Regions from separate parts of the Homo sapiens genome. Here region 1 is linked to region 2. The links come from fine-mapping of genetic effects on gene expression. A gene starts in region 2. The other region holds a variant in brackets. All regions are shown on one strand. Distances are from middle to middle. Region 1 has its middle 55 kb from the start of MAMDC2. Region 2 holds the start of MAMDC2 (MAM domain containing 2).

What was found. PIP is the estimated chance that this variant, and not a neighbour inherited with it, causes the effect.
Region 1: its variant is fine-mapped to the expression of MAMDC2 in lung (TOPMed, PIP above 0.99). The same link has a PIP of 0.9 or more in fibroblasts.

The regions. Positions count from the first base shown.
Region 1 is chr9:69,980,821-69,996,713 of GRCh38, forward strand. No RefSeq gene overlaps it. Among named protein-coding and RNA genes, the nearest start is that of MAMDC2, 55 kb to the right of the region's middle. The variant C/T (reference allele first, on the strand shown) is at 9,526.
Region 2 is chr9:70,034,484-70,050,376 of GRCh38, forward strand. MAMDC2 (MAM domain containing 2) reads left to right here and starts at 9,365. Exons shown (of 14, transcript NM_153267.5): 1 at 9,365-9,748; 2 at 10,101-10,214. The coding sequence starts at 9,715. LOC124902179 (a long non-coding RNA gene) reads right to left here and starts at 9,558. Exons shown (of 2, transcript XR_007061571.1): 1 at 9,471-9,558. RefSeq lists an enhancer at 3,827-4,344 and a silencer at 9,350-9,644.

The sequences.
Region 1 (15,893 bases), 54 kb before region 2:
CAAGTTCTTCATCTGTAAGTCCTCTTCCCCCAAAATTCCTTAAATTCAAATATTGCAACTCCAAGAGGGTGGCCAGGCAAACCCACGTTCTTTGTGAAAACCTCCCAAATGAAATATGTTTTGAACATTTTTTAGAAGGTTAGAAAGGAAGAGTTGAGCAAAAGGACGCAAGGCCAAGGTCAACTATCTCTCATTAAAGGGAAAAGGGGACTTAAGGCTGTTTTCCAGGGTCCCCCCCAGGAGCAGAGAGGAATCTCTCCTCTACTAATAGTTAGCAGCTGTTCAAACAGAGGTGCTAACCTCAATTGTCTTAACCAAAAGTGGTTGAAAAATAACGTTTAAAAGAAGTGACAAGGTGCTATCTCTAAGTTTGAAGGATTATGCAGCAAAGGTTGGAATAGAAAAATAGGAGGCTCTCAAAGATATTCCTCAAACTTTAGCTATTTTGCTCAATCTTGGGCTTTTGTTGGATCTATTGTCTGTGTGGATCCAACATACTATTTGAGAGAGAAGTTGTCCTGACTTCCATGACTCAAGTGTGTGTTGCATAGGTAACATTGGGGGAGAGTCTAAGAGAGTTTGGAGAGAGATTCATATTTAGCCACATCCTCAAGGCTTTCTCATCAGCCCCAAATCTGACTGAGCCTTAAATCATTAAGCTGAAAGGAAGAGTTAATTTTCATTGGGCCTTGTTTTCATATGAAAGATAATTACAAATAACTGCAGTGAGATGCCTGGTGAGGGTTCCTGTTGCATGGTTCCCAGGGAGGGGTAGATTCAAGTTACTCCTATTTGTCAGTCAGTATTTTTCATTTACCTATAACCTTTTCTTATGAATTAATTCCAAGTGCTCTGTTGAAGGCTTCTCCGGACGGAGTCTCAGTTGTATCTGCCTTGGCATTTTTCCAGCCCCTACTGTTCCAGCTATAGGTGTTTAATTGACATTGCACTGAGAGAGGATCTCATGAACATTTAAAGCCCCAGTGCATAGAGGCACAAACGCAGTCAGAGGAAGTGGAGTGACTGGCTTCATTTCTCACTTGAAGGGCTATGACCTATTAGAGAAGAATGTGGAAGCCAAGAGTCAAAGGGAGGGAAAAACGCAGCTCATGCTGGAATTCTAGACGCCCTACAACCCCTGGGTGATGTACGGGTTGCTCTTGAAGGCAGAAATCTGCTCTCTTCCAATTTCTCTGGCTTTCATCCTTAAAGCTTGTCCATAATTTCAGGCTGGTTGAAATGGATGCCATGTTACTGGGATCTACACTGCACCACTTAAAAAATATTCTCCTTTCACTTGGCCTAAACAATGTGTATCTCCTTTTTACCTCTTCCTGTTGCAGAGATAAAATGCTCAGCAAGGAGTTAATGGTTTTACAGTGATGCAGCTGGCAGCAGTAGATCACAGAGCTCAGTACAGGAATCCAATTATTTCCTTTGTCTAAGATGAAAACCTATACTTCAGGGGTGGGGGAAGGGCCTGTGCTGTAGGGTTGCTTGATTTAAGATTTTGTTCTAGAAAGAAGGATGGTTCTCTGATGCAGCTCAGCTCCTGGGTCACAGAAGCTTGCCTTTCTCCTGCTTGATGTTAGCCACCTGAACACACTTGGGATCCAGGAAATAGGAAAAAATAGACTCCTTTTTCTAGGTTTCTGACTACTTTAGAGCTTAGAATGTGCAACTAAACTAGCCTTAAATATCATAGGCTAATGATGATGGTGACTCCAGAAACTTACTATTAATGTAGAGGACATTTTGGCAGCAATTTGTAAGGAGAAGATGCTTCTGAGGTCTCGGAGAGCAGATGTAGAAAGAAATCTGCAAATGCGTAGACAGATAGGATAGATAGATAGCTAGAAACTCCTCTCTCTGGGGCTTTCTGTTGACTTAAGAGTAGGCAGACACATTTCCAATTCCAAATCAAAGAAAATGCTTGGGTCTCATTTAAAAAAAAAGTAATCATTGCAAGATTCACAAAGAATAGAAACAGGTAGATAGTTTCACAGTCATTGGAAACTACATTCATCTTGTCCCAACAATATCATGGAAAGGTACAATTAAATCATTCTCATAAAACAGCAAAAGGCCCAGAAAGGTGAGAGACTTATGAAGGGTACAAAATAATTAGAATCAAAGCTAGGACTAAAAGCCTTGCAGGGTGGGATAGGACAAGAATGTGGACCTTGAAGTCCAATAGATCTGGATTTGAATTATTGTTCTTCAGCATAGCAGGTCTGTGATGGTGGGTAAGGGAAATCCACTTATTTGAGCTTTTATTCTTTCATGAAAATGGGAAAATAATGCTTACCTGATGAGTTGTTAAGAGGATTAGTGATAATGTACATAAATGTGTTTTTCCCATAGTAATTCTGCAGAGTAGATGAAAGTGAACAGTGGGCACTACGATGGAAAGGAAGTCAGATTCAGATTATGAAGGAACTAGAATTCATCAGCTGTGCCTGGCAAGATGCTTGGTTACAAAGAGCAGAGATGGGCTTTGACCAATAGTGATATGGCATGGCCAAGCCTACTTCAGCATTCTATAGGCTCAAATGCTCATTTCTTCTCCACATCCTCTCCCCACCCTTCTCCATCCTTCTCTGCCACAGGAGACTGACTTTTATGACCATGTCAACAGGCTCCCTTGCCCATTGCTTTTTGCTTGGGTTTGGCCAAGGTGAGGCACCAGCGGGAGGATGAGAAGAGAAAATGATCAAAGTGTTTTCCCCTCTGGCTGTCTCCCTGCTGGGCCAAGAGGAGCTGTATCTGTTTCTCTTGGAAGGCCAGGGCTCTTTTGTGTAGCCCTTTCCTATAGCTCCAGCTATGGCTCTCTCCTTTTTAAAGTAACCCTTCTTTCTCTTGCTCCTTCAGCTGTGGGAATGATAAAAGGCTCTCTGCTTTAACCAGTCCCAGAGGCTTCAGCACGCCTCACTGGTTTCTCTTAACTCTGTGCACACCTTTGTAAATAGTCCCTCATGAAACTCTCCTCAATAACCTTGCATGTAGTATCTATTTGCTGCAGAGACTCTTCCGTTTAGAGCTGAATATTATTGTCCCTATTTTATAGATGAGAAAACCAGCCCAACAGCATGTTGAAATACTCTCGTAACTCTGGGCTTGAACTCAGATTGCAGATGCCCATCATAAAACTCAGGCTCTCTCTATGAACTGTGTCTACCCCACTGCCTTCATGTTAAAAAGAGCCCATGGCCTTCAGCTGAAGTATTACACTCTGGCCTTTCACACACTCGCGCATGTGTGGGGACATGCTTTTGGAGGAGTGCCCCCTTCTTTCTATGAAGAGTCGATCCAGCTCTATCCTACCTGCCAAATGGAATCTGGGTCTTTGTTTTCAATTGTTGAAGAACCTCTCCTTCTTCGGTTAAAAGAATTACTCTGAATCCCCTGTTTTTACTCAGGAATACCTCCTGAGATTTTGATATTTGTAATTCTGTTAAGCGTAACTCTTAAACGCAATTATTGGAAAACAACCTTAATAAAATCTGACCCAAGGCAAGTCCTGAAATACCAGATCATAGAGGAACCTAATTAACTACTTTTTTTCCTGCTATAGAAGCCACAAAGCACATTAGAGCTGGAAATGGCCTTAAAGATTATTCAGGCTCTCAACCTAATTTTAATAACACAGACCCTCTTAAAATTTGAAGAAGCTATAAACCCTCTCTCAAGAAAAATGTGTATTTTGTCTTGCTTGTTATCTTTCTCTCTCTTTTTAAAAAATAGAGACAGGGTCTCACTATAGTTTCCTGGGCTGTTCTTGAACTCCTGGGCTTCAGCAATTCTCCTGCCCCAGTCTCTCAAGTATCTGGGACTACAGGCACATGCCATGGCACCCTTTCTCTTTCTCATTCACGCATCCACATGTATACACACTCTTACCTTTTTTTGATTCATTGTCATTGTGAAGCCCACTCATGGGTTCCCAGATTAATGACCCCTCTTTTAGGCAAATTCCTTTGGTTTGCAGATGAGGACGCTGATACCTACTCAGATAAAATGACTTACCCAGGGTTAGAGGTTCATATTTTGATCAGATTGGGCTGTTATGCTGCAATAATAAACAACAATAATCTCAGTAGCTTAAAACAACATTTTTCCCCCTCATTCATGTAGTTTCCTCTGTGGCTTAGCATGGGGCTCTGCTCTTTGTCATCTATACTCGGTGATGCAGGGTGACAGACAAATGCCTTCTAGAATATCATCCGTCATCATGACAAAAGAAGAGAAAGCATTGCAAACCATGCACATGCACTGATTCTTTAAGCTTCTGCCTGAAAGTGACACATCACTGCTGGTCGTACTTCATTGGCCCAACTGAGTTCTATGGCCATGCTTACCTCTAGGGTGGCAGAGAAACAACTGGTGGAGAACACAAATGACTGAGAAAGCTGGAAAAGCCAGAGTAGAACCAAGGCATTGTTTTATTTATTTATTTATTTTTGAGATGGAGTATCGCTCTGTTGCCCAGGCTTGAGTGCAATGGTGTGATCTCAGCTCAGTGCAACCTCCACTTCCTGGGTTCAAGCCATTCCCCTGCCTCAGCCTCCCAAGTAGCTGGAACTACAGGCATGTGCCACCACACCTGGCTAATTTTTGTATTTTTAGTAGAGACAGGGTTTCATCATGTTGGCCAGGCTGATCTCGAACTCCTGACCTCAAGTGATCCACCTGCCTCGGCCTCCCAAAGTGCTGGGATTACAGGGCATTGTTATTTTTTGTCTGAGTCCCTCTACTCTTCTAAGGCTACCATTATCATTATCTAATTCATCTGGATGTAGCCTGTAGAAGATTTGTCATCCACTTAACAGGGTTATGTTTTTGATATAAAATTGAGTCTAACTTGGAGATTTCTGTTGTTTTATTTGTAAATGCTGATTTTCTAACAGTTCATTTAAGATGCTATTGCAACAAAGGAGACCTGTCTCATTTAGGATGGGCCATTATTGATTTTATAGAACACTCATTTTTCAAGTGAAAACCTTTCCTTTCTATTGTCTGGATTGCCCTTATTTGTCTTCGTTTCTAATACTCATTTATTTCCCCTGGTCCTCCATAGCTTGTGGCCAATAGTGTTACCAATGCAAACACAGAGGAGTCTCTGGATTTTTTTTTTTAATTTAGCAATTGATAACAGTTGCACCTCTATTTTTATCTTCCATTATTCATTAATTTTATATTTTATTGAATACTTGCTTCTGCTATGAGGATGGTAATAAGGGTTAAATTACAAAATTTGCCTAGCCTAGCACAAAGGAGTTGCTCAAAACATGTGATGTGGGATGTGTGTGTGTGTGTGTGTGTGTGTGTGTGTTTATTTTTTATTTTGAAATCAACATAGGATGATGACTAAGAGCACACACTCTGGAGTCTGGCAGGGTGGGTCAGCATCTTCATGCAACCACTTACTATAAGCCATTCGATTTTTAGATGATTTTGTCAACCTTTCTGTGCCTCAGTTTTCTCATTGGCGAGATAGGGCTAATAATGCTACCAAACTCCTGGGCTGTGGTGAAGAGTAATTGAGATAATATATGTACAACATCTGCCACAGGATGTGGTTTGGAGAAATCAGCATGCATATTGGAAAATAGGATCGCTATTTGCCAACTGGGTAGTATATCGAGTAGGAAAGAATATAGGTTTTGGAATTCAGTAGACTTAAGTTCAAATCTCAGCTCTGTCATGGTGTGAATTGGAGCAAATTACTTACCTCTCTGAGCCCCAGTCTCCTCTTTGGTATCATGTGATAGTCCTCCTCACCTTGCAGGGTATTTGGAAGGACCTCATGGGAATATGACACTACAATATCTCACACGGTGCATCGCACGTTGAAAGAGTCAATAAATACTAGTTCTTCTGGATGTGGTGGGGTACATGAAGATGGATAAAGGAAACAATTCCTCTCCCTTGCCTTCCAGGGGTTCATAATCTCATTGTGGAGATAAAACATATCTACAAATAACTACAGATAACCTAAAATGCTGAGTGCAGTGCAAGAGATACAGCTTATGGGCTGTGGAAGTTTGCATTAGGTGAGTTACTATAGAAGGGTCATTTGAGCTGGGCTGTTGGCTTTGGCTGAGATACTTTAATTTACAAATATCGCTTGTTTTTCTTTCTCCCTCTTTCCTCATCAACCCCTTCCTCACCTCCAAACCCGAGAATACTCTATTATGCACCACTGATAAATTTTGCCCGGAGAGGAGAAATTCATTACCCTCCCTGCCAGCGCAGTTTGCTGATGCACTCTGTTTTCTGGTTGTGATATTTACAGCAGCTCAGTTAAGATTTAATTTTCTATTATTGCCTGAACTTTGCAGCCCTCATTTTTCATTTGCTGTCTGAGAGTCATTGCTTCAGCACCCTGGAACCACTGCCGGAAAGACTTACTTAACATTCAGAATCAATGAACAAACAGGAGAAACGTTTTACTAGAGACAGGGCTTTAGTGATGTGGGGTTTAGCTTTGATTCCTAGCAATAGTTTTAGTCTATTCTTTCCACTTCCTGTGACCAGCTGCATTTCTCCAACTCATTATCGCATAAGATGTCTCAGAGGTACCTGAGCCTGGGTGTTCTCTCCTGGAAATGTTACAGTCCAGGATCTTTCTGGATGTCATTATTATTTCCTTTTAATTTTGGCCTCTGGCCTTGCTTGATAATGTGGGAACCCTAATTTTCCTTTTCCTTTTCTCAGGTCTCTTGCTGGACTTGCCACATGACACAAAAACCTTGTCTAAAGAGATCTCAGGGCTAGCAGGCCTTTTCCCTGCCTCATTATCTGTGGATTCATTTAGTTGATGAGACAGGATTTTGATTAATGTGTTTTTCTACTCCAGAACTCACTGCTGCCTGCAAAATCCCTTCCCTTTTACCTCATGGGAGTGTTCATCAGGGATGTGGGTGTTTGGAGACTTTCTCACCCCACTGCCTTCCATCCTGTGGTCCTTCTACTGAGGCACTGGTAGACTTATGGTCATTCAGTACTTGTGACATTTTGGTACCTGCCTGCCCTCCCCAATATGCATATCAATCCCCTGGAACTGGGAGCAGCCGTTTTGTACAATTTGACTATGCCTTCCTAGAGACAACATTGGTAGAATGGGAGCTTAACAAAAATAGGGACAATGAGTCTTTTCCATGAGATATTGGATTTGGGACTGAGAAAGAATTGGTCCAGTCTCTTTATGAGGCTGTAGCCACAGATGCAAAAGTAAGGGGAGTTGGATGCCATTTTTCTTCTAGGTAGAGCCAGTGTGCAGTGAGAAAAATGGAGCAGGCAAGCACAGAGGAGATGTTGAGATGGAGGATCCAGAGGGCACATGGTTCCAGCTGTTCCTAAGGCCCAGGAGTGCCTTTCTTCTTGTGGGGTTGACACTTCATTGGGTACCACAAGATATCATCAAACCTTTCCAATAAATCTCCTCATTGGCTGTTGCAAGTTGTTTTCTGTCACAGGTAATCAAAAAGTCCTAACTGACACAGTGTTTTGTAATTGCTGGTTTTATGCTTCTGGCAATAGCTAACCAAGCATGAGTTTAGGTTATTATTTAGCACCCTTCTGATTGTAAAGGAAAATGTTAAAACTTCAGTGTGCTCCAAAAAGAGTCACCAAACACACACAAAAAGTTGAAATCAGGGTCTTGAAGAGATATTTGTACAGCCATCTTCCTAGCAGCACTATTGACAATAGCCAAAAGGTGGAAGCAACCCAAGTGCCCATCAATGGATGAATGGATAAACAGAATGTGGGATACACATATAATGGAATATTATTCAGTCTTAAAAAAGAAAGGAAGTTCTGGTATGTGCAACACCATGGATGAATCTTGAGGGCATTATGCTAAATGAAATAAGCCAGTCATAAAAAGACAAACACTGTATAATTCCACTGATGTGAGGTACCGAGAGTAGTCAGATTAGAGACAGAAAGTACAATGGTGGTTGTCAGGGGTTGGGGGAGAAGAAAACGGAAAGTTGTCGTTCAGTGTATACACAGTTTCAGCTTTGAAACATGAAGAGTTCTGGAGATTGTTTGCATAGCAATGTGAGTGTACTTAATATTACTGAATTGTCCCCTTAAAATGATTAAGAAGGTAAAATTTATGTTATGTACATTTTACCACAACTTTTAAAAAGAATCATCAAATTCTCCAAATAACATCTTTGATTTCTGGGATGTGGAGAGAGGATGAACGTGGGCTATGAATGAGAGGACCACATTCTATTCCTTGCTTTGAACTCAAATAAATGATTTGTCCAACGTCACTTCTTTATACCTCATTTCACTCACATGCTCCTTTAATTCATTCACACAAGTATCTGCTATGTAGGTTCTAGGTCCTGTGCAAAATCATGGGAACACAAAGGTGAATAAGAGGGTTGTTGAGGAAACTTGCTCAAAGCAAGTAATCTCTGTGTGGATTTGGAAAGATCAACCAAGAGGATTTCACCAGGTGTGAAAGTGGAAGATGGTATTCCAGGCAGCATGCAAAGAAGTTTCAAGAATTCTGAGAACTTTTTGTTTTGAAGCCTGGGCCACAGATGGAGGCAGAAAGAGGAAAGGGTGGTTGCAGTTGGGGCTGAATTGAGAGACAAGACTGAACTGTAAATGGGCTATCTATGGATTATTTTGGAGGTAGGCAGGGTTTCCTTCTGTGTGTTCTGTGGCCCGCTGGCCCCTTCAGAGGTTCATGAACAAATAATCTGGTTGATGGTCCATACTGTAACCCCCTTTTGGCTATGTTGAGTACCTCATTAGCATACAAAAGGTCAGAAAAATTCCTGCTGTAAAAATCTTGACTTTGTTTAACCCAACAGTTCCTAAACTTATATGACCATTGGGTTTTTCTGTATATCATTTAGTTGCAGACCTACATTTTTAAAAAAGCTTTGGGAAAATGTGTTGGGGCTGGGGCTCTGAAACATAGGGCTTACTTAATTTTGGCTTGTCTTTTTAAAAGGAGGGAATCAAACTCTGAAATGATTTCACATTCTGTATTGTCAAGACTTTGGTCTCTTAACTGCCTTTCTCCGCTAACATTCCTAAATGGGGAGCTGCCATATGGGAGAAGGCAGAGATGTAAGGGGCATCTATGTATATGTTCTGCTCCTAAAGAGTGTCCTGCTTCCTCCTACAGAATCAGGGCTCTCGGACAAGGATTTCAGGGCAAGTAATTTATTTGGGAAGTGATCCCAGGACATACTGATGGAGTATTGAGAAAGTGAAACAGGGAAGATAAAGGAGCCAATAGAAAATATATGTATCAAGCAATTTCCCACGGGGCAATGAAGTCTATTCTCTCTGGGGAGCTCTGGGAGGTAGTGTGCAATGTGTACCTCCAAGTTATTCTATCAGAGTGGCAAGGGGTCTGGGGTATTTACCCACCAGCTCCTGCCAGTGAGTGGTTGAGGGCTGCTTGGCTTAATGCTCTCACCCTTTGGGTTTGTGACCCACGTGGGCTCCAGGCAGAGGCAGGCAGGTGCTGGTCTCCTGAAGTCAGAC[C/T]GACTAGTAAGGGCCAAGGGGATACAGGTGGAGCTCTGGAAGTGTCTGCTATAGTTTCAAAGCTAGCGGGGCTGGAAAGAAAATTGTTACAATGTCAATCCCTCCATTTTTTTATAGTGAATGAAGACTCATTCTGATAGTGTGGCAAGTTTCTTTTGACTACTTCAAGATTCTAGAATTTTCCCTGTATTTCCCTTCCTTTTGACACTATCCCAATGTTCTCATTTCTAATTATTTGTTAATTTAACTCTCACTTTCACTTTTCCTATTCTAAGTCCCCAATTTTTTATTTATTCAATTATTACTCCCAACCACATCAGCCCTTCTGAAGAAGCACCATTTTTCCCATCAAGTTCTTACTTGTGTTTGGACTGGCATCTCCTTCCAAATTGTCTTGAATTTTGTCTAGACAAAGACTCACTGTGCTCATGTCTCCTGGCTATCAAATAGGAGAAAATTCCATGAACCACTTTGGACTATTTCCCCAAATCTGTGCTTTTACTTCCCTCTGAGACCCCACACCAAGCTACATAAACATCTCAGTCTCAGGATTTACACTTCCATTAGTAACCAACACATGCTCAATTGTTATCTATGTTTCATTTATTCATTCAACAAGAATTCATTGGACATCTACTACCATCTACACAAGGCACTGTTGCAAATGACTTGGGAGTGGGAGATGATAGGCAAGGAGGCTGTGGAGATAGTGGATCCAAAGCACAGATTCTGGAATCAGACAGCCTTGAGCATGAGGCTCATCTCTGCCTTGGGCAAGTCACTTTGGCTTTCTAAGGCTCGGATAACTCATCTATAAGATGAAGATAATCATACCAATTTTATGGGATTATTTAGAATATTAAAGGTTATAATGGACATATAACACTTAGTATAGTCCCTGACACACATTAAATAATACATACATAGAATTATGTTTTGTTATTATTACAAATATAAACTGAACAAAGATGCCACCCTGAAGCTGCACTGTATCAAGACAGAGGAACATGGACTAAATATGTATAAAGCAAGATGGAAAGTGCTAAGTGCCAAAAAGAAGTAAAGAATATTCTATGGAAGTCTGAGGAAGCACTGAGAGGAGGAAGGAGAGAGCCAGAGGGAAGCCTGAGGAGGGTTTGATAGAAGGGCAGCGTTTGACCTGGGGTGGTTAGGATTAGCGCATACAGATGCCAGAACTAGGACACTAATTGTATTTGTGTGTTTATTTATACTGTATTATATATTGATATACCACATGCATAAATATTTATACTTGACTCGTATGAAACTATATTCATCCAATCAATAGACATTTACTGAGTATCTACCATAGGAAGGTTATATGACTGAATAGTTATCCATTCAGTCAATAGATATTGAGTATCCACCATAGGAAGGTTACTAGCCTAAATGCTAAGAAAACAGCACAGACACCTGCAAGCATATGTTTATTGAAGCACTGTTCACAGTGGCAAAGATACGGAACCAGCCTAAGTGTTCATCCACCAATGATTGGATTTTAAAAATGTGGTCTATGTACATCACAGAATAATACTCAGCCTTAAAAAAGGAATGAATTAATGTATTTTACAGCAAATTGGATGGAGCTGGAAGCCTTTATTCTAAGTGAAGTAAATCAGGAATGGAAAACCAAAACTCACTGATAAGTAGAAGCTAAGCTATGGGTACACAAAGGCATACAAAGTGGTATAATGGACTATGGAGACTCAGAAAGGGGGAGAGTGAGGGGGATGAAGGATAAAAAACTACGTATTTGGTACAATGTACACTACTCGGGTGATGGGTGCACTAAAATCTCAGACTTCACCACTATACAATTCATCCACGTAATCAAAACCCACTTGTACCCCAAAAGCTACTGAAATTAAAAAATAAAAAAAGACCAGGAAAAAAAAGAAAAAGAAAACAGCAATGCATAAGAACAAGCAAAATCCCAACCTTCATCAAGCTTCTAGCCCAAGGGGCAATGTTCACAATTGTTAAGAATAAAAAGATTCAGAAATAGTATGTGAAGTATGATCCTATTTTAACATATGTATGGATATATAAATGTACATATCATAAAAATGAGGCTGTGAATGCATAGTTATGTGTAAAGAGAAAGTGAGAGCTAAAGCAATAAATTTGGAGAGATAGATACAAAAGTATTAGCAGAGATTCTATTTTAGTGGTGGAATTATATTTTCTCTTTTTTATCTATATGTTCCAAATTTGGGGGCAATAAACTTGTGCTTTATGCATAATGTTAAAAAGTTGTGTATAATGTATGCAATTAAGCAACTAAGTGCTAAAAGTTAGAATTTAACAGAAATTGCAAAGAGCTTTTCTACTTTCCTTATTCCCATCTCCTAAAACAGCCATCATATTTCTAACCCCGAAGGCCTCTTGATGTTCAACTCTTTCTCCTACATCTGCTACCAACCCCATTGTTTGTGGACCATAAATCCTTTAATTTGACAAAATAAAATCTTCAGCTTGAGAGAAGTGCTTTCCCCAAAGAATGCTGTGCTCAAAATCGGAAGCTTTGGGCTTTTAGAGGGAAAAATACTCTATTGCTGCAAATGATTACTATTTCTATTTGCTTTATAGGTTGTTAAGTGTGTAGAAGATGTTCAAATAAAGCTGGCTAGAAAGTATAATAGCTCATGGATTTTTATAATGGAAAACAAACCCCAACTGAAATTAGGCCAGGCTCTCCCATTCACAGAGGTTTCTGATACATAAGTGTAATGCTCCCTCCTGGCCCCCAAATGCAGAGGGGATAGGTCTTGATTCACCACTGGGTGCACTGGCAGAGCCAAATTCTAGGCTGAGGTTTCGGAAAAGTTTGTTGGTCATGGCATCACTCCTGGCAAACACAAATTTATCTTTTTTCCGCTGAGGTCCCAGTTTGCTTGGCAAGACCTAGTTTATCTGGCAAAGCTAATTCATGGTGCTCCAGCTTTTCAGAACTGCCTGCCTCTTGCAAATTGGCTGGGTGTGGTGATTTTAATAGGCTCACTGTTTAGAATATATTTTCACATTTTCTTTCATCTGTTTATTCTTTGGTTTCCTATCCCAATCATTCCTGCCTTTTCTTCTTCATTTGAATGCTGAAAGTTTTAACTGTAGTTTTGCAGTGCATGCATTTATTTCCTAAGGATTTTTTCATCCTGATTGACTGGTCACTTGTAATTATGGACCCTGCTGTCATTTTGAATACAAAGTAAGCAATTTGTCTAGTAATTTTTGTTTAAAAGGTGAAGGTCCAATGGTGGTGGATATAATTTGAGAAATGCTTTACATGAATTTGGGGCAAATGAGAAGGAGTTATTTAAATATGGAAATGAATATGCATAGATATAATTATGTCAATAAGAAACCCTCAAAATTAAAAAAAATCTGATTCCTCATCAAGAAAACCATTTATATAATTGTTTCACTTTGTTACTTACAAGTCTTTGAAATTTTCTATTGCTCTTAGGATAAGCTTCAAGTGCATTAAAGTGGCTTGTAAGACCTGGCCCCAGTCTCTTCTCCAGCTCCCACCCTCACATTCTAATCACAACATAATCAATTTCTTTCATTTCCTCTAGAGTATTAAACTCTCTTGCCTCTGGATCTTCATGTTGTATTTTATCTTCCTGGAATGCTCTTCCTAGTCCTCCATCTGGGTAACTCTTCCTTATTTGTGAGTCTCAGCTCACAGGTGGTTTCCTCTGAGGAGCATCCCCACATCTGCTTGGTTTGGGTTAAGGTCCCCTCCTCTGTGCTGTGTCATCACAGCAGGTCGTTGCGGCTTAGTTCTCTGTCTCTTCTACCAATCTGTAAAATAGCCATGTCTTTCTGTTACCATTTTATCCTTGAACCAAGCACAGTGCCTGGCTGGCACATAGTAGGTGCTTAATAAATATTTCTTAACTGAATGGGTGCATTGGAATAATTTGTTGAGAAAAGGAATCAGGATTAAAGTGATTTTCTAGGTCCCATGCTGCCCTTGGGTGCCTGAATTATCAGGTCAATTCAGACTGAACAAATATTATTGAACACAGATATGTGCCAGCTGCTTCCACCTACCCTATTTCATTTGATCTCTTCCTTAGCTTTCTATTTTCCAGCTGAGGACAGTCGGACCCAGCGAGGCTAAACAACTTGATCATGGCAACCCATGAATAGAAAGAACCTTGAGTTTCAGAGACCTACCTCATTGCTCTTGGACCTATATCAGGGTGCTGTCTCTTTAAACATGTATGTGCCTGTTATTCTCTGTTGCCACAGCCATCCACTAGGCTATCTTATTAGAACATAAGAGCTCTTGAATTGCTGACATAAAAGTTACAACTGAGACCAAAATCAAAATGGAATCCTGGAAAGGAATTGGGGAAGGAAGCGCTGGTCTAAGATTCCAGACATTTGAGTTTTTGTCTTTCCTGTGTGACTCTGGGAAAGTTGTTTAGTCTCTGTGGGCCTTAGCTTTCTCATCTATACAATGAGTGGGAATTATTGGATAATTTTGTAGGGGCCTTCCCACTTTAAATTTAATGATCCTTGCAAGCTGGTATGAGAGTTAAACCTTAACACTTTGAGAAAATGCTGGAAATGTCGTATTAGGAATGACACCACAGACTGCAGCCTTATTTCAAGTTAAGTAAATCCTAGAAGTAGATGTCCACTTTTAATGGAAAAAAAATGATACATTTTATTTCCATACTGAATCAACTTCCTACCTTAAAATGGGATTTCTGCTATGAAAATGGCCTGACAAGTGACACTGTGGTGTGGGTACATAAAAACCAAACCCCGCAGAACTTAGATGTAAAAATTTCTGAGGACCTTCACCTGTGTGACAAAATGTAGAATATACCCCTTTAATAGATTCAGAATCAAGAGATACATTTCTAGTAGGGCTTTTGAAGTATTGAGACCTCTCATGGAAAATGGATCTCTTTTCTCTTTTAGGAATGCTGCACATTTTTTGAGAAGTTAATTAAGAACAGCATTGTTTTCTCCTTGACAACAAATCAATGATAACATTCTAGAGTTTTATAGCACTTTTCTCCAAAGTACTTAATATATTCAATATATCCAAGTGAGAAATCCTATTTTTCTTGTTCATAAAATTGCTAATTTGTCTCAGTGACGATGTAAAGACATGTATTACCTATGGATATAGAAAGTGTTTATTTCATCTATTGAAACTCAGAAGAAAACAAGGAATGGGTTGAACTTCAGTGTTAAATTGTGGAGAGGAGCTTCACTTGAGTTTCACAACAGCAGCAATGATATAGATTAAAGGAGCAGAGCTCATTTTGATGTTGAGTTTTGCTGTGGTCTGAATGTCTATGCTACCCCAAAACTCATACGTTAAAGTCCTAACCCCCAAGGTGATGGTATGAGGAGATGGGACCTTTGGGAGGTAATTAGTCATGGGGGTGGAATCTTCATGAATGGGATTAGTGCCCTTCTGAAAGAGGTTCCAGAGAGCAGCCTTGTCCCTTTCACCAGGAGAGGACACAGTGAGAAGGAAGCATCTATGAACTAGGAAGCAGGCCCTCACCAGACCCTGAATCTGCCAGCATCTTGATTTTGGACTTCCCAGCCCCTCCAGAACTGTCAGAAATAAATTTCTACTGTTTGTAAGCCACCCAGTATGCAGTATTTTGTTGTAGCTGCCTGAACAGACAAGACAAGCTTAAATTAGACATTCAGAGTGAACAGATGTCCCATAGTGAACTCCATGGAATTCCAGGATGAGCTACAAGAGCCAGTGGAAACATAATAAGGTAGGAGAAAAAGATAATAAGCAAGAAAAAAAAGGATGCAGTCAATGCAGAAGAAAATGATGCTGAGCTACGTGACTCAGGAGAAAGTGAGATGGAAAGTATATAAGAAATTGTAAATGATAAAAAGTTATGGTGAGAGCTTGTTGATATCATTTGGATATCTGTACCCTCCAAATCTCATGTTGAAATGTGATCCTCAGTATTGGGGGTGGGGCTTGGTGGGAGGTATTTGGGTCATGGGAGTAGATCCCTCATGAATGGCTCCGTGCCTTCCTGCGGTAATGAGTGAGTTCTCACTCCATTAATTACCATGAGATCTGATTGTTAAAAAATGAGTCTGGCACCTCCTCCTCTCAATTTTTCTCCCTCTCTTGCCACATGACATGCCTACTACTGCTTCATCTTCTACCATGATTGTAAACTTCCTGAGGCCTCACCAGAATCAGATGCTGACACCATACTTCTTGCATGGTTTGCAGAACCGTGAGACCAATAATTCTCTTTACTTTGTAAATTACCCAGCCTCAGATATTCTGTCATGGCAATGCAAAATGGATTAATACAATTGCTAAGACTAGAAACATG
Region 2 (15,893 bases):
TCCCCACTCTAACGGATGAATATGTCAGAGATTATGAATCAGAAGCTAAGCTGGGGTTTCATTGCTGTTCTTGGAAATGTTTTTGGCTACAGAATGCTTTATTTTTCCTGTTTCCATGCCAAAGCACTCAAACAAAACTTGTAAAGGAGAAAGCATACCACCTGGGTTTAGCCTAAATTGCTCATGGGCCTCCCTAGTCTCTGGAGCCACCATTAGCTAGAATATGTCAAATTCTGGTGTGCTCTTCCTCACTCTTAACCCTAATAGGCAACACAGAGTGTTAGCGCCTGGGATCTGGGGGGTGTCCTAGGGGTGAACATGTGTGCACACAAACCAGCCTGTACCTCTGACACAGCCACGATGCTGCCCATTCTCACTGCAATGACCTCTGAAATGCCAAAGTCATGGTTGTTGGTAGCAAAGCGGGGCATGGCACTGCTGCTCACCTGCTTTCATTTTAATACTGTCACAATCCTTATTAATGCAGGTTGTAGAGCCATTTGTGGCCCAGTGTTTTTTTAGAGATTTAGGGAAACAGATTTTTCTGGCTTTCCCAACAGCCTGGCGTTACTCTTGGACTCAGATAGGAGACCATGGAGCTGGGCTGGGACAGACTCAGGTGGCAGGATCCAAGCTGTTTCATAGTCTCTATTTCCCTCCAACATCCAAGGCCTGGCACTTCCTTCCAGAGGTTAAGTTCTCTCTCTGTGGCCTCATCTGCCTCTCAGGAAAGTGGATTTTTGAGAGTCTGCCTTTCTCCGGTTTGCCAAATGTGCTGCCCTGACCCCCGCAAGCCTGCTTTTACTCCCTGTTCAGTCTGTTGCTCCTCTTCAGATTGGCTCTGTGCTCCCAGAACACACCTGTGATTTCATTTTTATACATATTCCCCTGGGTAATTTAAATGTAGTTCTTTTTCTTCTACTCATAGGACTGCAGCTTAGGCTGGTTCTTGGGCCATGTGGACCAATGAGGATATGCTATTCCTTAGACTTTCCTTCAACAAACATCTTTTGAGCGACTACAATTAGCCATGTATAGAGATAGCACAGGAGCAGATACAAAGATAAAACACACTTGCTCTGCTTTCTACCCTTGAAACTCAGTCTCTATCGCAGAACACAGAGACATAGACAAAGTCATTGTCATACAGCGTTCTGTGGCATGAATGTTTATGTCTGCCCCAAATTCATATGCTGGAATCCTCACCCATGAAACGATGGCATTAGAAGTGGGGACCTTTGGGAGGTGATTAGGTCATGCGGGCAGAGCCATCATAAATAGGATTTAGCACCCTTATAAAAGAGGCCCAAGAGAGACCCTTGCCTCTTCTGCCATGTGAGGATACAGTGAGGAAATAGTTATCTGTGAAGAATCAGGCCCTTACCCAACACCCAGCCACCAGAATTGAGAAATACATTTTGGCTGTTGATAAGCCACCCAGTGTATGATACGTTGTTATAGCAGCCTGCACAGCCTAGGACACAGCATCATACATGCTGCAGCACAGGCACACCAACAACATAGGAGAGGGGCCATTTGAACTGGGTCTTGAGAAATGAATAGAAATATATTAGTTTGTAGTAACTAAGTACCACAAACCAGATGGCTTAAACAACAGAAATTTTTATTATCTCACTGTTTTGGAGGCCAGAAGACCAAGATCAGTGGCACTGGTGTCGGGGATTGTTCCTTTTGAGGGCTGTGGGTGAATCTGTTTGACGCCCCTCTCCAAGCCCCTGGTCTTCCTGGCCTCAGCACTGCCTGTGGGTAGAGGTAGGAGGCCGGGGACCTGGGAACCAGACATTTCAAAGTTCTGCTCACACCTTCCCTGTGTTGGGTGGATGGCATTGAGGTTATAAGGGCTTTGGTAGGAGCTTGAGCTGGCTCCCGCCCCAGCCCTGTACTTTTGAGCAAGTCACATCAAATCTCTGAGCCTAGTTTCTTCCTCCATGAATTTACCATGAAACCACCTGGCACATCACAGACACTTAACAAAACATGGTAGTATTATCACTGTGACTGGTCAGCCCAGAAAACCTCAATTTAAAAAAAATTAGAAGGTTGCATTCAAGCTGTAATGAAGGATGTCTGACTCCCAGCTAGGATCCGGAGTAAGCTGATGAAGAAAAGATTAATGATAGAAAGCATCTATTGAAGTATCTATTTCCTTTAAAATGCTCACTCTAGAAGATGTACCTACTTTATGGGTTCAGTCATTTGACTGTGGCAGTTTGAACAGTGGGCTATATATTTTGTAATAAAAGGAGATTTGTAAGGACTGATTGTCCCTTGGGTCTTGGTGCATCATGGGAGATGATTCAAATCCGTAGCAGGCACATGACTGCTCTTTGGGAGTAAGAGGCCAACAGTGCTGGACAGTAACCAAGGACCATCGCTGGCCTCGGGGCAGAGCCTTCAGTTACCTCCTGCTGGAATGCAACTACGGAGGTCACTGGCAGGACAAGCCCAGAGCCTGGAATGATTTTGCCATCTCGTTTTAGCCTGATTGTGTGTAATGAGTGGGGGCCTGTTGGGTGTATGCAGAGAGAGAGAGACGACATGGAAGCAACACAGACCACTGACTGCAGGAGTGCATATTTGGTCTTTTCTTCTGAATAAAATTAGAATAAAGTTGGTAAAATTCACATGAAGATATTTTTAAAAGTTTACTGGAAAACACAAAAATTTATATCAATGGACCAAGGTAAATATATCAATCTTTATAAATCAATGTACACATTTAATGTAATTCCAATAAACATGTCAAAGATTTTTTTAAAAACACTGAGTGTAGGCCAGGCGCGGTGGCTCACGCCTGTAATCCCAGCACTTTGGGAGGCCGAGGCGGGCGCATCACGATGTCAGGAGATCAAGACCACAGTGAAACCCCGTCTCTACTAAAACTACAAAAAAAAAAAAAAAAAAAAAAAATTAGCCGGGCGCGGTGGCGGGCGCCTGTAGTCCCAGCTCCGCGGGAGGCTCAGGCAGGAGAACGGCGGCGTCAACCTGGGAGGCGGAGCTTACAGTGAGCGGAGATTGTGCCACCGCACTCCAGTCTGGGCGACAGAGCGAGACTCCGTCTCAAAAACAAAAACAAAACAAAAAAAAAACCACTCAGTGTAGAGTGACAGAGATAGAGGTGAGCCCATACAAAGTACATCAGACAGTGAGAGAGAAAGGCAGAAACAAAGACAAAAATCCAGAGACAATGACTTGGCATAGATTAAAGGAGACCCAGGTATTAAGAAAAACAGATTATATATATGAGATAAATGAGAATGCAACAAGGTATAATAACTACAAAAGATGTTACTAATTTTATTATTAATTACCTTACATCTGTGCAAGACCTAGAATATACAAAGTCCTTTCCATGTTTCCAAATACTGGCCAACTAGGAGGTGAGATAATTAATGGCTTCTCATCCCACCACTGCCCTAGAGACATACAGCCTTGGTTAAAAGTCACCTAGACTTTTTCTGCCTCCATTTGCTCTACTGTAGAATGGCATTGCTCCCGTGTGCCTGGCTACCTCCTCTGGAGGAGTGAGGAGGGAGTCACCCTACTCTCTGTCTCCGTGGTTCTATCATAATGCTGCAAACTTCAGCTCAAGAATTGAATTTAACCTCCCAATAGATTTTGTTCTACCCCATGGGGATTTGAGTATATTGTTTTAATTTCTTGGAATGGAATGGAATTGAATGGAATGCAATAGAATGGAATGGAATCAACTCGAGTGGAATGGAATGGAATGGAATGGAATGGAATGGAATGGAATGGAATGGAATGCAAGAGAATGGAATGGAATCAACTCTAGTGGCATGGAATGGAATGGAATGGAATGGAATGGAATGGAATGGAATGGAATGGAATGGAATGGAATGCAATAGAATGGAATGGAATCAACTCGAGAGGAATGGAATGGAATGGAATGGAATGGAATGGAATGGAATGGAATGGAATGGAATGGAATGGAGTGGAAAGGAATGGAATGCATTTAAACTGAATGGATCCGAAAAGAATGGATTGGAATGGAATGGAATGAAGTGGCCTTGAATGCAATAGAATGGAATGGAATCAACATGAGTGGATTGGAATGGAAAGGAATGGAATGGAATGCAACGGAATGGAATGGAATGGAATGGAATGGAATGGCATCTGAAAATCAGGAGTTGTTATATACATATCTGAATATTGGGCTTCTTTTGAAACATGAGCAGTTGGGGTAGAGATGGTTTCTGTAATGCCCTTTAGTTGGACTTACTTACTCCAGTTAACCACAGTCTCCATCCCTCCCTATTTCTTCCGTGTTACCAGATCACTCCATTCATTTACGTGACTTCCTTGGCCTCTAGACTTTTTATATTTGCAGCCTTAATTCTATCTCATCCACATATTTTATTGAAATTATTGTCTCATGGGTCAGTCTCCTGTCTCAGCAGCAGAGGATGTGTCTTCTTGACCCCTGGATTTCCAGCCCCTAGCATAGTGTCTGGCTCACAGTAGGTGCTCAGGAAATGTTTGCTGAGCTTATCATGGCATGACACTGCGTGAGACTAACAAGGAGAGAAAGAAAACAGAAGGGAAAGTGGGCAGTAAAGACAGACTCTGAGATTGGCTAACCTCTGTAGTGCAGTCAAAGGTGCAATCATAAATGCTGGCTTTCTTGCTTTCTTCCCACAGATTTGCTCACACCCCCCAATGCCTCACCTGGCTATGTGGGAAGACACTGGATAGAGAGGAGCAGCAATGCTTCATCTTCCTCACCTTGACCCAGAAAATTAGAAGCAAGAACTTGGTGATCTCCAGGCTAGAAGTGGTACAACAAGGAGCAGAGCCCCTGGTGAAAGGTACCTGGAGGGCGCAAGGAACAGATTGGCAAAGAGCAGAGAGGATGGGCAGGCTCTGTGAGAGGTGAGCATCATACAGGAACCCACAGAGAGAGCAGGGCATAGTGTCTGTGTGTGGTGTAGGCAGCCCTCATTAGGAGAGACAGGCCTGTGTAAGGAGGAAGCATTTAGGGGCAGCATAGTGGATAGCCAGGAGAAGTGGGCATCTGGGATCAAATCCTTGCTGCATGCTGGCTGGACGTGTGACTTTGAGCAGGTTAATTGACCCCCTCTGGTCCTGTCTCCTAGTCTATAAAATGGGGACAATAATGATATTCACCTCATAGGGATATTGCATGGATTAAATGAGATAATGCATGTTAAGTGCCTGGCATGTGTTTACTTAATGCACTCTATATTAGTTTTCTATGGTTGCCAGAACAAATTACTACAAACCGGGTGGCTTAAAAGAACAGAAAGCTATTCACTCACAGTTTCAGAGGCCAGAAGCCCCAAATCAAGGTGTCTGCAGAATACAGTCTTCTGGGGCTCTAGGGGAGAATTTGTTATTCCTTGGCTTGGGGCTGCATCACTCCAATCTCTTTACATGCCATCTCCATCTTTACGTGACCATTTCCTACATGTGTCTGTGCCTTTTCTTCTGACTCTTATAAGGATACTTGCCATTGATTTAGGGCCCACCTGGTAATACAGGATGATCTCATCCCAAGATCCCTAACTTAATTAAATTAGCAAAGTCCCTTTTTCCAAATGAGGTCACATTTGCAGATTCTGGGATACGGATGTATCTTTTGAGCCACCATTCAACCTATTACAATACCTAAGTACTGAGTGCTTTCTGTAAGCCAGAACTTGATATGTGTTATTTGATCAGTTGCTTAAGCTAAATCTTGGAGAATAGCATTCTGGGTTCCTTGGGACCTGATCCTGTTTTCCCAAGTAATAAGAGGGTACCATGTGGGTGCTATGATTAGTGACCAAAGGAAGTTGGTTGACGTAGTTTCTAGATTCTCTGGCTTCCCTCCTCAGTCTTTTTCCCTGCATCCTGACTTAGGCCACATACAATATTTTTTCCTTTCTCTGCAAAACGTCTGTGGTAGGCATTTTTATGCTGTCCAGATCCCCCTTCAAGAAATGACTTTTAGTCCCAGCGGCTTGGAGTATTGTCATCGGCCTTCAACTTCTGATCCTCCCCAGTGCAGAGAGCTGCCTCACTGGAGATCACTTCTGTCCCAGCATAGGCCACAACCAGTGACAGATGGAGACAGCAGTACAAATGCCCTTTCATTTCAGCCTAACATGAGACAAGTTAGATAGGCCATTTTAACTCCATAGTTCCTTGGGGGATTGAAAGAAGCTTTGTGGGATTTGCATTGCAACTCCAATTCTCCCTCCACCCTTTCCTGCTTCCTCTCCCTCCCTTCCATGGCACTGATCCCAAGGTACTCCTGATTAAACACCCTGCACATTAAACTTCAAATCAGAGTCTGCTTCCCAGACATTCTAACTTGTGCCAATGTCTAAGGATCATATATTCTTGGGATCAAACAATTATATGCAAAATAGAAAATTTGGTCTGAGTTTGTACTTATGTATGATTCTGTTCCCATAGGTGGCAATACACAATGTCACGTTAAGGTTGTAAATCATATTTTAAATTTTGGAAGGATCTCTTTAGGGCTTTGAAGTTTTTCATTTTCCTATGACTTAGAACATACGACATGAATCTAAGGCAATTCTAAAACTTTGAAATACTCCTTAAGTATCTGGAAAAAGGAGCACCAGTTTGATTGTTGCTGAAAACTTCTTTAGTTGAAAATAATGTTTTGAGGTTTCGACTGAATGTATAACTGTCTTTGAATTTTTAGTTAAGTAGTGTGATGAAATTCATCAGATATTTAGCACCATCTGTGATCAAGAAGTCAAAAAAAAAAAGAATATAAGACCCAAGTGAGAGAAGTCCTGTACTGGTTGAGAAAATAGGCTTTTGGAATAAAGCAGATCTGGGTTTGAGTTTTGTCTCTACTGTCCACAGTCACTGAACTCTGTGCCTCAGTTTCCCCATCTATTAAATGGGGATAATGAACATATTTATCCTGTAGAGATTTTGTGAAGCTTAAATGAGATTATCTACATAAAACATTTATAATGGTAAACACAATAAATGTTATTATTAGCTACTACCTGAGGCAAAGCATATAAATAAAAAAAGATACATATACACCAAATAGCACACACTAATGAATAAATTTTTGACCATTTGAATCATTGTTTACAGAAAACACATGAAAATTTGTTCCTACCTTTAAAAAAGGATTCCAGATATATTTTCCTTATTAGGGAGAAGGTTACTAATTTTCTAATACTGAAAGTGACATCTGAGTGAAGACCTCATTAGGCGGTGAGTTGTGTGGCTCTTTGTGGAAGAGCATTTTGAGCAGAAAGAACAGCCAGTGCAAAATTCTGAAAGGATAGCTGGACTGTGTTTGAGGATCAGCCAAGAGGTCTGTGTGGCTAGAGAAGAGTAAGCAGGGTGATTGAAGTCAGAGAAATAAGAGGGTGGGGCTGGGTGCAGTGGCTCACGCCTGTAATCGCAGCACTTCGGGAGTCCGAGGCAGGTGGATCATGATGTCAAGAGATTGAAACCATCCTGGCCAACATGGTGAAACCCTGTCTCTACTAAAAATACAAAAATTAGCTGGGCGTGGTGTCACACGCCTGTAATCCCAGCTACTTGGGAGGCTGAGGCAGGAGAATTGCTTGAACCTGGGAGGTGGACTTTGCAGTGAACAGAGATCGCACTCCAGCCTGGTGACAGGGTGGGATTCTGTCTCAAAAAAAGAAAAAGAAGGAAAGCAAGAAAAGAAAGAAAAGGGTGGAGCAGGTCCTATAGGGCCTGGTTGGTCATCGTGAAGACTTTGGACTTTACTAAATGACTTGGGAACTTGTTGGGTCTTGAGCTAAGGAGTGACATGGCCCAATTTCTGTATTAAAAGGATAACCCTGACTAGTGTGTTCAGAATAGAGTAGGGTGGGCAGGGCAGAAAATGAAGGGAGACCGTGGTCAGGAGGCCACTGCGGTATCCCAGGTTGATGGCAAGGGCAGCTTGGACCAACCAAGGCATCACCACCATGGGCACAGAGCATGGTCAGCATCTGCTGTGTTTTGAATCCTGAGCTGATAGAAATTGGCAATGTCTGACAGGAACGGATGAGCTGAAGATGCCTCCAAGTTTTCTCTCCTGAACAACTGGAGGAAAATAGTTCTTTTACTGAGATGAGGAAGACACAGGGGACGGGCAGGTTTGGCAAGAAATATGCAGCCTTCATGTTGGGACCTGTTAAGTATGAAATAGCTCTGAAGCATCCGATTGGAAATGTTGAGGTGGCAATGAGATCGAAGAGTCTGGCGTTAGTGAGTAGTCTGGGTTAGAAATATAAATGTGGGAGTTATCAGGCTATCATTGGTATCTAAAACTATGAGACTTGAGGACAGCATTGAGGGGCTGGATAGAGAAAGAAACAGGAGTGACAGGGAAGAACTTGGAGGCACTCTCATGTTAAGGGGTTACAGAGGTAACGCAAAGAGGCCGAGAAGCGGCGGCCAATGAAAGACCAGGAAACCCAGCGGTCTGGAAGCCAGGTGAAGGCATGGGAGCAGGTTGAACTGATGGCTCAACTGGAGTTTGTTAGGCCAGTGGTCCTCAAAGTATTGTTCCAAACCCGCTGCGGCAGCAGCAGCCTCTGGAAACTTATTAGGGACGTGCAGCCTCTCAGGCCCACTCCAGAGCTACTGGATCGGAAACGGAGGGTGAGGCCCTTCAGCAGATTCTGATGCACCCTCAGGTTTTAAAACCACTGCCCTCCTCACAAAATTGCCTGCACAAAATTATAAATGGGAGAAAGGAGGAGGAGGAGGAGGAAGAGGAGGGGAGGAAGAAGAACTCTTTACAAGAAAAGAATATTGTTGGAGACCCACTTAGTGCCCAAAGCAAACAGCTTCCTCAGAAGTAACTCCCTCCCCAACAACCCCCTCCCAGTGTAAAGCCTCCCATTAATCAATCTATCATGGCTCTTTGGAGAGAAGGAATGCCCCCATTTCACCGGACGGAGGGAATGCTGAGCACCAGGCATGCCAGACATTCCACCGGCTAAAAAAAGTGGGGGTGGTATTCCAGGGTTAGCATTGCTGGACCGTAAACGCTGAAACTCCTTAGATATAAAGCTTATTCCACCCAACCGTTTCCAAATTTTCCTCCAGGCTGTCCTTGGAGAATTCCACCCTCTTTCATTCTGGGGAGAAGAAGTTAAAATTAGGGCCAGCCCTGCGGGACTGACATGCCAGATGCAGGGAAGCTGTCCCCAGAAATAAGCGAGTTCCCACCGCGGCTGGGCGGGGCGGGAGCCTCGGGTCCCAACCCAGCGGAGGGACTCCTGGAAGGCCTGCCCCTTCCAAGTGTCTGCAAGGGCTCTGGTCCCAAGCTTTAAAATCCTGAGCGAAGGCACTGCGGGCCGACCTCTCCTCTCCCAGCCAGTCGTGGCTGGCCTTTCAAAGTGTGCAGTTGTCTCCTCCCTGTCCAGCCCCATCGTCGCCCAGGACCAGCTGGGCCGCGGTCTGACCTGAGGCTGCTGCTCAGCGCCGGGGCGCTGGCGCTCTCCATTCGAGCACCTTCCAGCATACCGCTCGGCTCCGGGAGCCGCTCTGCAAAGTTGGGCAGCTCAGAGCGCAAGCTTTGCCTCTCGACTTCTCCCTCCTTGGGTCCCCGGCGCCCCCGCCTCCCACGATCCCTTTCACTAGGAGCAGCCAGTCCCAGCGGGCTGGCAACTTGCACCCCTTCCTAGTCATCCTCCCTGAAACGCGACCATGCTGTTAAGGGGCGTCCTCCTGGCGTTGCAAGGTAAGGCCTGGACCCCGGGACAACCCCGGGGGCGCTCTGACGACTCGCCCCCGCTCCTGCTGCCCCCGGGGGTCCGGCTCACCGTGCTGGGCTGGGCCATCCGAGGGCGCCTCCTGATCCTCCGCAGCCGCTAACTCCCTCCCCTGGCCAAGCCTGGGGTGGGGGTGGGGGTGGGCGTGGGGTCGCTCAGTGGAGGCGCCCGGGGATGCTGGGGGACAGGTACTGCATCCCTCTCCCGCCCCCTCCCGCTCGTCTTTCCCCCACTTTCACCAGGTAGTCCCCCTGGGGCTCCCCGAGTTGGTGCAAAGGCTCCTGGGTGGAGCTCGAACTGAAACTCGCTTTGTGCCCGCAGCCCTGCAGCTCGCCGGTGCCCTCGACCTGCCCGCTGGGTCCTGTGCCTTTGAAGAGAGCACTTGCGGCTTTGACTCCGTGTTGGCCTCTCTGCCGTGGATTTTAAATGAGGAAGGTAAGGAGGCTCGGTGGAGAGGGGCGCGAAGTGAACTTTCTTCCTTGATGGCTTGCTTTTTTTTCCCACATGGGTAATGTTATCTTGGAGTTAATTCTCCGCGGCAAGAAAAGTGTGAGTCATGGATCCTCCTTCAAGCCCTCAGCTGTGCTGCAAGGGATGGCCGAGGCAGGAACGGGGCGGGCGGGAGGCCGCCCTTTGTTTACCTGGCCTATGGGTAGAAGCTTAAAATTTGCGTCTCACCCCAGCACTCCTTAATGGAAGGGAGAAACGGAGCACAGCTAATGATTGTTCTCCGCTGTGGGCCTCTGCAGGCACACCAGCTGTGTGCCTCTGCAGGCCAGCAACCTTTCTGGTCCTCAGGAGACATGTCTGTGAGTTGGGAAAAGTTGCATGGGACTAGTTCTCCTTCAGCTTTGCAGAAATGGTTCCACAATTCTGTGATGGGACGTCAGTGCTAAGACATCACGTCTGCCTTGACCCTGACAGTGTTTTTTGCTGCATGATTTCATCCTCACACTCCTGTTTGTAATCCTGCCCTGGACAAAAGAAACCATGTACACTGCCAAATGCCTGGGGTCCCTGTCTCACTGGTGGTCATTGTCTTACTACTCTATACTGTTTGGGTCCCAAGGACAAAGTTTAAATGTGGGGTCTTCTGAAGTGTCATCTTGCCTTTATATAGTTTTTTTTGTTTTTTGTTTTAAAGTGTGGTTCTCAGTACCCAATGGCAGGCGGCACTGGGTGTCCCTTCTTTCCTTTCTCTCTCTTTTGTCACCACCAGTGAAGCCTGATGCCCACAGACTATTTGGATTGGAAAATAGCCTTCTTTAAAAAACATGGTACCCTAGATGAAACCAGCTCACCTCCTTCCCCACTCAATTGTCCTCAGGCCGCAGATCCTCCCACCTCGCTCCCTGGGGGAGGATGGAGCCCGGAACCCCTGGTTAGATGTATGAACTGTCACCACAGCTCACTCTGCCCCAGGCTTCTACTCAGGGTTCTGCATACATTAGCTTCTCTGACCCTCACAGGTAGGTGATGTTGGACCCGTTTTACAGAGGAAGGAATCTCAGCCATAGAATATTCAAATGGCTAGTCCATATCACAGTGTCACTGAGTGGCTAACTCTGAGTGTCTAGTTAGGAAGAAACAGGAAGGAACTGGTTCAGTAGTAATCTCCATCTTTATCCAACAATTGCCAAGTCTTGACTACTACAGTCTACTTAGGGGTGGCTGGGAAAAAGCAATTCTTGATTTATTATTCGAGGGATTCCTATCTTGCTGATGGCTTTAGGAAAGTCTCTGTAATCTTGCCACTCACCCTTTCCCTATACTGGCTGTATGGAAGCATTGCGGGAGATGGCCTTAGAAATGCCACGAGACTGGCTTTGGAGAGCACACTCCTCCAGCACGGGGCTTCTCAAACCTCAGCTGCATCAGAATCACCTGGTGGGCTTGTAAGACACAGATTGCTGGGCCCCACTTCCTGAGTGTCTGATTCAGGGGGCCTGAGAATTTCTAACAAGTTCCCAGGTGATGCTGATGATGCTGGTCTCGGGACTACACTTTGAGAACTGCCGACTTCCACAGTCTGTGTACACACACACACAACCTGTGCTGTTGTTGGCTCTGAGTAGGTCTGGCACTAGGGTGAAGGAGCTACTTGCAGGACCCGAGAGTGAACAGCTACTTAAGTCTTGTTCCCTAAGCACTTGGCTTGCCTCATCCTAGTGCTGGCCCTGAGAAAAGGAAATCAACATCATTCCTTAAGCCAGGAGCCTTAGTTAGTCTCTGAGTTCCTGCCTCCGGCCCTCTGTCAGGATGGGGGCCCCCTCACAGCCTGCCTCTGGTCAGTGGGCATGCCACAGCCTGCTGAACACAACTGCCTCCCAGACCCACAGGAAGTCTCTCTGCTGAGTTGGCACCTCTGCCCCAGGACAGCAGTTAAACCATCCCCCTTCAGGGAAAACAGGAAGATGCTTATAGAAAAAGGTGATTACAGTTTAATAGTATAACGAAGGCACTGTGGCTTTGCTTTCTGCATTCTTTCTAACAACCACTGCTTTCTGGCTCAGGACTGGGACTACTGGGTTGGCTGGCGGAAGTTAATTCATTCTCCTCTGAGCACTCCAGGGTGGAGCAGGCAGGTTAGGCTCCAGTTGTTCCAGCTTCAGTTTGTCAAAGGCCAGAACTTGGACGTAACAGTGTACTGCAGGCTCCAGGGCAGTGAGGTAGGTGTGTGGCAGTTGCTGTGGTTGCCTAAGAAGACATCGCTAAGAATTTCCCTTATAAGCCCATTTCTAGGTTGGTAAATTAAAGATAATAAAATTCTTCCAGGCTGAAATTTGGCAAGCTGTTCACAAGCTTCTCTGCAAATGCACTTCTTCCTGCAGAAACCCTTTGAAACTGGTTCCATGGTTCCATTCACCTTCATGTACTGGATCCACCATGGAAAGTAGTGGGTTTCAGAGACTTTTGCCCACATGCACTTCTTTTTTTTTTTTTCTTTAAGTTCTGGGATACATGTGCAGAATGTGCAGGTTTGTTACACAGGTATAAATGTGAATGGTGGTTTGCTGCACCTATCATCCCGTCATCTAGGTTTTAAGCCCCGCATGCTTTAGGTATTTGTCCTAATACTCTCCCTCCCCTTGCGCCCCACCCCCAACAGGCCCCGGTGTGTGAAGTTCCCCTCCTTGTGTCCGTGTGTTCTCATTGTTCAACTCCCACTTATGAGTGAGAACATGAGGTGTTTGGTTTTCTGTTCCTGTGTTAGTTTGCTGAGAATGATGGCTTCCAGCTTCATCCATGTCCCTGCAAAGGACATAAACTCACTCTTTGGTATTGCTGCATAGTATTCCATGCTGTATATGTGCTACATTTTCTTTATCCAGTCTATCACTGATGGGCATTTGGGTTGGTTCCATGTCTTTGCTATTGTAAATAGTGCTGCAATAAACATATGTGCCAGATGCACTTCTTATATGTCCATGGTCCGTAGGTTAATTTATTGTGGAGAGAACAATGCAAAAGGCCAGAGAAGGAAGGTAAGTTGGGACACAAATCTGCGAACTGGGGTTTCATCACAGGAGAATCAAATCTGGAGGTAGTTGGAAAAGTCTCCTTGTCTCTAAATATCCCCTTTGCTGCCTGAAATAGTTTCTGAGGTTCATGCCTTTGATTTACAGTATTAAGTCCCTAGATGTCCCTGATTACAGTTCGAGTGTCTCTATTTCATGGCCACTTTAAAATATGCTTTATCTCCACTGGACACAGAATAGGTAAGTTTTGACCAGGCATTGTGTTGGCTTGGGTTATTTATCCCAATGGCAGTTTCCCCCAGGGAATGCCAGGTGCACCATACAGGGCATCGGGCACTGAAACCCAGTTTTGTCTACTTTCTCATTTTGCCCATGGTTGTCCTGCTTTCTTGATCTCCCTCTATTCTTTTTGTAGAATATTTTAATTTTCCCTAACTTGTCAAGGGAAGTGATACTATGTCAGACTCAAATTTGAACTCACTTCTAAATCTTAAGTTTGAATTGAATCCGGCAAAGAAGGGATCTGTTTTTGTTTTTTGTTTTGTCTCTTTCAGAAGGAGTCTCACTCTGTTGCCCAGGCTGGAGTCCAATGGCGTGACCTCGGGTCACTGCAAACTTCGCCTCTCGGGTTCAAGTGATTCTCCTGCCTCAGCCTCTGGAGTAACTGGGGCATGCACCTGTAGTACCATCTACTCAGGAGGCATGTGCTACCACCCCAGGCTAATTTTTGTATTTTTAGTAGAGATGGGATTTCACCATGTTGGCCAGGCTGGTCTTGAACTCCTGACCTTGAGTGATCCACCCGCTTCGACCTCCCAAAGTACTGGGATTACAGGCATGAGCCACCGCGCCCAGCCAGGGTTCTGTTTTATCCTGTGAAAATCTTTCTCCATTCATTTATCCTATAAAAAAAATCATCTTTATTCACAGCTCAGAGGATCTGGAAACCCCTTTGAGCAGCAGTCCTCAGCTGAAATCGGGGCTGCTTATTCCATTTTCCTGATGCCAGCTGTGGGGGCAGAGGTCCTTTGCCCTGAGGATTCTTGGAGACCATGCGGTTGGCCTTGCATCCAAACAGGCACAATTCAAAAGAATCATTGAGTGGATATTGGCTTCATTCTCATTTTTGGACATTGTGGCTTAGCACCTTTAACTGAACTCTGTGAGGAAGCCACTTGAGGAGCTGAGGCAGGGTAAAGCCAAGTCTAGGTGTTGCCCCTTAATTAGGAGTTTGGAACACTCAGCTACCTGGAAGAGGAAGGCAGCTGCAGAAATGTCTCAGGTGAACAGGAAGTAAAAAGAGAAATTGAAAGCACTTGTTGCAGAGAAGACCTACATTGTTTTTCCATGGTAGGAGTCAGGGTTTGAGAAATCGCCTAATACAGAAAAAGGTTGGATGGCTTTTGTACCCAGGAGTGAGTGATAGCATCTGAGGCAGGCAGGTGGGCTACAGGGTTGGGCATCATGAAGGGGTGGGGTGGGGGCATGGTAGAATGTCCCGAAATCACGTGTAAATACATGTGTGTTTGTCTCTCTGATACCCTTTCCTTCACCCAAACTTGTCCCTTCTCTTTTAAGGACACTCTCAGCTCCTTGGCCATCTGCGTTTCAGTTCTGCACTCAGTCATGTGCCAGTTATTATTAACAGTGATGAATCCTGCCTGCTATTTCTTGAGGCTCAGCTAGAGCCACAAATCTGGCAAGGATCCCAGGTTCCTGGGAGAGGAGAACCAGTCTTCTTCCTGCAGACTACAGCTCCTTTCCTGATTTTGGAGGGCTGATTCAGCATCCCACCCTGGCATCACAAAGTTCATAAGGCCAGGGACGAGTTATGCTCATCTGCATGGGGCTACTTGGTCCTGCATTATGTCTGCAGGTTGTTCTTAGAGCTCTCTAAGCAGAAGTACAATCCCCACATTGTATGGGGGCTGGAAATCGGCACAAGTCAGGGATGTTCCTTGACACCCTCTGGGAGAGATGGTCGACCCCAGAAATGTGACCTAGTTACACTTGCAGTATCACATGCCATTTCCCGCTGCTGCCCTGGCTGTGACTGCTCTCAGGTTGAGCATGGCTGTGCTGTGCTGTGCCTGAGGGCAGCCTTGCTTCTGCCTTGCTTCCTGGGAACCCAGATCCTAGAGCTGGGCCTTGGAGGTCATCCAGTGCTGCCTCCTCCTACACAGACCAAGTCAGGCAGCCCTTGGACATTGCCTCAGCTCCTTGGCTCTCCACCAGTTCTTTTTCCTCCAGCATTGGAGGAAACATCCCTGTCTCCACTCTGGGTTCTAAACTCTGAAACTTTGTTGTGTTGGAAACTCTTCATCAGAGAGCTAATTATATTTCAGACATGTGGAAGAACTCAGATTCCAAAGATGCAGTGTTTGGGGCCAAACAAAGCCACAAAACACTACATTTTATGCCATACCATGTAACATGTATTCACTCTTTCAGATGTATAGGGATCCCACCCGTCTGTGATCTTCAGCGTGTAGAAAAGAGCCTGGCACATAGCAGGTGCTCGATATATATTTGTTGAATGAAAGAACCTGTTGAATGACTGTATTAGATCACAAACATATCCTTAAGTGTTTTCCTACGTGCTCCTGGTTCATTCTGCCCCTTCAAAGGTAGTTCC